Homo sapiens: one gene and its partner. The protein of the gene in region 2 interacts with the protein of the main gene of each other region in a pairwise test. Each region holds a gene or a part of one and is shown on either strand. Other genes may lie near its edges.

Evidence for each region. Proteins that work in one complex are often made in the same cells at the same time.
Region 1: the proteins of HTT (region 2) and DES interact in binary tests that used the Homo sapiens proteins (3 or more experiments, as listed by UniProt).

The regions. Positions count from the first base shown.
Region 1 is NC_000002.12:219,424,303-219,427,383, forward strand, and holds the end of DES (desmin), read left to right. Parts: intron 1-1,360; coding exon 1,361-1,443; intron 1,444-1,646; coding exon 1,647-1,688; 3' UTR 1,689-2,250; coding exon of another isoform or gene 2,251-2,277; 3' UTR 2,278-2,432; downstream 2,433-3,081. UniProt on the Homo sapiens protein: Muscle-specific type III intermediate filament essential for proper muscular structure and function.
Region 2 is NC_000004.12:3,207,060-3,210,711, forward strand, and holds part of HTT (huntingtin), read left to right. Parts: intron 1-221; coding exon 222-298; intron 299-1,713; coding exon 1,714-1,852; intron 1,853-2,767; coding exon 2,768-2,890; intron 2,891-3,652.

The DNA of each region.
Region 1 (3,081 bases), on a different chromosome or scaffold from region 2:
TAGCAAAGCCAAACAATGAAAAGAACGAGCTCTTAGGGCACTCTGCCATTTTGACATTAGTAATACGCAGATCGGGTGGCTTTCCAACCCCAGAGAGCAGAGAAACACACGATAATGATGCATTAGGAAAGCAAGTCGGAGTCCTTGGCAGCTTCTCCTTTCCTAGATCAAACCTTTTCTATCTTCGATGTACATTTCCATCAGGAAAAAAAACACGCTGCGCTCCAGCGAGTCACAACATTCATCACAGGCTGGTTGCTAGCTAAGGAAATTCGTAAGCACCAAACTCATAATACCAAGGACCTCCATTTGACCTTTCCTACACAACTCAGAGCCTCTCTTTTCAGTTAGTTGTTTATACAGACACCAAGTATGAGTCTTGCATTTAAAACTTCATAGTACAAAAAACTCCACCCACATTGCACAGTGCTTTTCCAAATCAATAGCTTTGTGGCCATGATAAGGTTGGTACCACTTCACTCCGTGTCCTCAGTGAGGAAACTGAGGCACAGAATGGCAAGTGACTGAGCATCAGCACAATGAGTCAGTGCCTTATTCCTGCTCTGTCTCACTTTAAGACATCAAGTTGCTCATCTGAATTTTTTTTTTCTTTTGAAACGGAGTCTCGCTCTGTCGCCCAGGCTGGAGTGCAGTGGTGCAATCTCGGCTCACCGCAACCTCCGCCTCCCAGGTTCAAGCAATTCTCCTGCCTCAGCCTCCTGAGTAGCTGGGATTACAGGCATGTGCCACCACGCCCCCCTAATTTTTGTATTTTTAGTAGAGACGGGGTTTCACCATGTTGGTCAGGGTGGTCTGGAACTCCTGGCCTCATGATCCACCTGCCTCGGTCTCCCAAACTACTGGGATTACAGATGTGAGCCACCGCACCTGGCCCTGAAATCTTAAAGGGAGATAGGTACTGTAAGGTCCTCTAAAGAGTGTCTTGAGACTGGGCTTTGGGGTTCTATCTTGAAGAAGGGGAGTCCCAGGAGACAAATGTGTGCAGGGCTCTCCTGGGGCCTGGGGGTGGAGAGGAACTAGGAGGGATGGGGAATGTCAGTGCTGTGCAGCCTGGGCCTCAGGTGTCCCCTACCCTCCTGCACCATCCTGCACATGGAGCAAATCTGTTGGCTCCTGAGACCATCTAAACTATGGGACAGGCGCTGGGGACTGCAGAACCACCTGCTGGGTGCTGGGCTGAAGGAAAGGTGTTAAAGTCTTGAAGAAGTAACAAGCCTGTCTTGAGGGGGGTTGGGGTCTGCTAGGGCTCTGCCCAATGTGGCCCCAGATGGACTCCCAGCCCCTGGTATAGCCCAGCCTGGACTTGGTCAGGCTGAGTGTGCGATGGACCCTGTTACAGAAACCAGCCCTGAGCAAAGGGGTTCTGAGGTCCATACCAAGAAGACGGTGATGATCAAGACCATCGAGACACGGGATGGGGAGGTAAGTGGTCTGTCTGGGCTCCTTACCCTTGGTGGGGGCTATGGATGTGTCTGGGGGGACTGTCTTCCACCCAGCTGTGCTGGTCTAGGTCCCTGGCTAGTGGGGCAAGAGAGATCCTGCGGCCCTGGGGTGGGGATGGCTCAGGGCTGAGGCTCCATTCTCTGGCTAGCACATGGTTGGACTGGGCTTCTCTTCCTCCCCAGGTCGTCAGTGAGGCCACACAGCAGCAGCATGAAGTGCTCTAAAGACAGAGACCCTCTGCCACCAGAGACCGTCCTCACCCCTGTCCTCACTGCTCCCTGAAGCCAGCCTTCTTCCATCCCAGGACACCACACCCAGCCTCAGTCCTCCCCTCACAGCCTCTGACCCCTCCTCACTGGCCATCCCTCGTGGTCCCCAACAGCGACATAGCCCATCCCTGCCTGGTCACAGGGCATGCCCCGGCCACCTCTGCGGACCCCAGCTGTGAGCCTTGGCTGTTGGCAGTGAGTGAGCCTGGCTCTTGTGCTGGATGGAGCCCAGGCGGGAGCGGTGGCCCTGTCCCTCCCACCTCTGTGACCTCAGGCACTAGCCTTTGGCTCTGGAGACAGCCCCAGAGCAGGGTGTTGGGATACTGCAGGGCCAGGACTGAGCCCCGCAGACCTCCCCAGCCCCTAGCCCAGGAGAGAGAAAGCCAGGCAGGTAGCCAGGGGGACTAGCCCCTGTGGAGACTGGGGGGCTTGAAATTGTCCCCGTGGTCTCTTACTTTCCTTTCCCCAGCCCAGGGTGGACTTAGAAAGCAGGGGCTACAAGAGGGAATCCCCGAAGGTGCTGGAGGTGGGAGCAGGAGATTGAGAAGGAGAGAAAGTGGGTGAGATGCTGGAGAAGAGAGGAGAGGAGAGAGGCAGAGAGCGGTCTCAGGCTGGTGGGAGGGGCGCCCACCTCCCCACGCCCTCCCCTCCCCTGCTGCAGGGGCTCTGGAGAGAAACAATAAAGAGATTCACACACAAGCCAAGCTGGCCCCTGTTGTCTTGACTGCCAGGTCTCCTGTGGGGCCCCTGGGGCCCTGTGATACAACCTGTCACCCTGAGATGGACTATACTGACCTTCTACCCAGCCAGACTTTCCCCAGGGCCTCGCGCCCACTTCTGTTCCCAGAGCCACCTGGCCTTGATGTCTGTATGCAGTGTATGGGGCAGGGAGGGCTGGACAGGGCTTTTGTTGGGGAACCACAAATACCTCTCGTTAGGCCCCAGTTCCAGGACTGCACCCCTTGTGCTCTCTACTACACCTTCAGGTCAGCCAGGCTGGGGGACACCACCTGCTATTCCTTTTGAAGGATGTAGCTGCTCCCCACTGACTGGCTCTGAAGTAGGGCTCCCCCAGTCCCTTCTTCAAAGATGCCAACAGCCCCTTTTTTTTCTCTCTCTCTTTTTTTCTTTTTGAGATGGAGTCTTGCTGTGTCACCCAGGCTGGAGTGCAGCAGTGTGATCACGGCTTACTGCAGCCTGGACTTCCTGAGCTCAAGCGATCCTCCCACCTCAGCCTCCCAAGTAGCTGGGACCACAGGTTCACACCACCATGCCTGGCTAGCTTTTTATTTTTTGTAGAGACAAGGTCTTTCTGTGTTGCTGAGGCTGGTCTTGAATTTCTGGGCTC
Region 2 (3,652 bases):
TCCTCCGTAAGTATGGTCTTGACATGGTCACCGATAGAAACATGGAAACATCTGCAAACTTGCCGTTACTCGTGTGTCCGATCTGACTGTTTCTTGTATTTTTTTCTAGTCTGCCCTTACTAGGATGAACTGTACACATCAGTTCATCCTTTTTAAATGAGCATGAGGTTATTTTGGGTTGTTAGGTGTTACAAACACACTAATGTGTTTTTGTCTATTAGAGCAGCATGGCCCAGTTGCCAATGGAAGAACTCAACAGAATCCAGGAATACCTTCAGAGCAGCGGGCTCGCTCAGAGGTAATGCTGGAAACACAGGTCGTCCTTGTGTTAGGACAACCCAGGATATAAAGGATATAGATTTGTACGGGAATAAATTCACAGGACAAGAAATCGATGTGCCTTATAGGTGGGTTTACTGCAGAAGTGCCATAATAGAACCTTCCTACTTTTAAAACAACCAGATCTCACTTTCTAAAGAGTAAAGGATGACCGGCAGGATCACGTCTGTGACGTGAGTGGAGGCAGTTTGCACTCCTGGTGGCTGTTTGAGAGGTAGCATTTAGAATGCCTGTATTCACTGTCCTGTGATGAGTGGGAAAATAGGTTATCAGGTTTATCTTAGCAAAATCAAAGCATGTCATCTAATTGCTAAACAAGAGTTGGCAAATCTGAGAGACATTACTCAATCCTTGGCATGCAGGACTTACATCTGCATCCTGTTGCCATTTTATGTCTTCAAAGCATTTAATCATTTAGTTGTGTTTGCAAAGTCTTTGAGAAGCCTTTGTCAGAAATCCCTACATCTCCTATGTGAGTGTATTTCCATGACTGCAGAATAAGTTAAACTTTTACCTTTTTCCTTCCCTTGCGGGGCGGGGTGGGGGGCAGGGATTGTGTGTGTGAGAGGGAGAGAGAGACAGCAGAGAAGGAGAATATAATTATCATGCTGTGTACTTTGAGCTGAAACTGCAAAAAAGGAAAAACACACAAAAATTATTATGCTTTTCAGTCTTTAGAGTACCTTGTCTATTATGCTTTTCAGTCTTTAGAGTACCTTGTTGATGGTGTTTTTAAATGGGATTGGGCACAATTAGGTGGACAGTTTGGGATGATTTTTCAGTCTGTAGGGCCAAGCTCTTTTGTAATTTGCATTATGAAGTTGTCACTCTCATAGCAGATGGCGGGAGATAAACTATTATTACTTTTTGACCCTAGACTTAGTCTTCAGTCCAGATGAGGGAGATTAAAAGATTATAAATATCTTGTGCCAGATGAGGTGATTTTATTTTGAAATGACCATGAATTCCTATCAGTTGTCTTACTGGGATATTTGATAGTGGAATTTGTGCATTTGAGTCTTAGATGATCTGTTTTACATTTATTAAGAAAGCCTTTATTAGCTTTTATACTGTGTATTGCCTGTTGCAGTGTTTGAGTATAAATGAAATTTCTGGAAAATATTAATGGAGTACAAACTGTGATACTTAAAAGTAAACTAGGGCCTGCATTTGTATCATGACCTGTTTGAGTATTGATGAGAAGATAGCTGTGAAGAAAAAGGTTTAAACAAGTGTATTTTCCTTTAAGAAGCCACTAATAGTGCATCTCCTTAGAGTGTATATTTCTAGAATCCTAGTGTGCAGAGTTTAGACTAAGACTAAAAAAAAAAAAAAACAAATTATACTGTAATTTCATTTTTATTTGTATTTTAGACACCAAAGGCTCTATTCCCTGCTGGACAGGTTTCGTCTCTCCACCATGCAAGACTCACTTAGTCCCTCTCCTCCAGTCTCTTCCCACCCGCTGGACGGGGATGGGCACGTGTCACTGGAAACAGTGAGTCCGGACAAAGTAAGTGTCCAGCGTGTCTGCATGGGAGGCACAGGGCGCTGAGTGCCTCTGTCACCTGTGGCAGATACAGAGAGTGCAGAGGAGGTGCCGTGGACCCAAGGAGTTCTGGCGCTCGGCTCGGCTCAGTGAAGCTGTGGTTAGAGACGTGGGGGGCCATCAAGGTCTGAGGGAGCCAAGCAGTGCTGATGTGGGACCCTTTTGGTAGGAGTGTGGGGTGAGTAGTTAGTGGGTGAATCAAGGAATAGTCGGCCGTGGCCTGCAGGCCCCTGACTGCACAGGCCTTCAAGCACATGTCAATGCCGTTAGCCTCCCTCCATCTCCTCATACCTTCTGGCCACCTGTGAGTTGCACTGCCACTGCCAGCCATTCTGGTATGTTGTCAGCACCTCCACTGCTCATACCTCATGGTTAGGGACCACCTGGAGCCTTGGTAGAGCCTTGGTAGAGCCTTGGTACTCTACTTTCCTGGACAAAGTTCAGCTTATGAATATGAATTTAGATTTCAAAAACCAGCAGCCCAAGTATAAGAAAGCGAAGGTTCAGTCCTGCCTTCTTAGGCTCTATTCGCTAAGCACCTGCCCTGCCCTGGTTGCTGGGGAGAGATGAGTAAAGCAGACAACCCAGGAGAGGATGGCAAAGGGGCCGCTAACCCTTAGTGGTTTAGCTATATTTGGAAGGCCTATTGGAAGTTCACCAGGTGAAGGGGGAGGCTGTGAGGGTGCCCAGGCAGGTAACAGAAGTCCAAAGGGGAAAACCTGTGGTGTGGTGAGCCGTATAGCCACAGCCTGCCGGCCGGCAGCCCTCTCAGCCTAGTGCGGTGTTCCCAAGCACTGGCCTAGGCCTGTAGCTCCAGGGATGTGAAGTCCCCTTGAACGCCGCCCATCATGTTCCCCTTATCCATTTTTTTCTTCCCAGGACTGGTACGTTCATCTTGTCAAATCCCAGTGTTGGACCAGGTCAGATTCTGCACTGCTGGAAGGTGCAGAGCTGGTGAATCGGATTCCTGCTGAAGATATGAATGCCTTCATGATGAACTCGGTACGGGGGGAGCAGTGGAGGCAAGGAATCCTCAGCTTTTCTTGTGACTTCCAAGTGGGATTTGTCTCATCATCATGTGACCCACTTGTTGACAACACATGTTGGGGACTCCAGTCTGGGCAGGGACGGGATGTCGGAGAGACTCCACTCTGAATGGGGCCGGGAAGTGGGGAGGACTCCATTTCAGATGGGGTCGGGACATGGGGGTTATGCTGATCGAGACAGAAAAGCACATTGTTTCAGCCACATTAGAATCCACGGAGGTGTTGTTTTGAAATCCAGCTGGCCCCAAGGCTGGGTGTATGGTTTGGGATGAGAACTATCTGGCCTCCACTGGAGGAACAAACACAGGATGTTATCATCTAAGCTCCATGGCCAAGACAGAATGGAAGTCAAGGTTGCGTATTTGCCGTAGACTTCAACACAGTGTCGTAATGCGTGACGTCAATAACTTGTTTCTAGTGTCTTGGAAGTTGATCTTTAGTCGTAAAAGAGACCCTTGGATGCAGCGAGATTTCCTCTACTCACACCTCTGTTAGATGTAGTGAGGTTCTTCACCCCCCAACCCCAGATGTCAGAGGGCACCCTGCGCAGAGCTAGGAGGCCATGCAAAGCCTTGGTGTCCCTGTCCCTCACCCGTGGGCAGGTCCTGTGAGCAGTGGGGGGGCCACCTCTTGGGTATGGTGCAGCCATGGCCCAAGCAGGGCTTCTTCTCAGACCTACTAGGACGGGAGAAACCTCCTGGTGCTTTAGCCCTGCGTT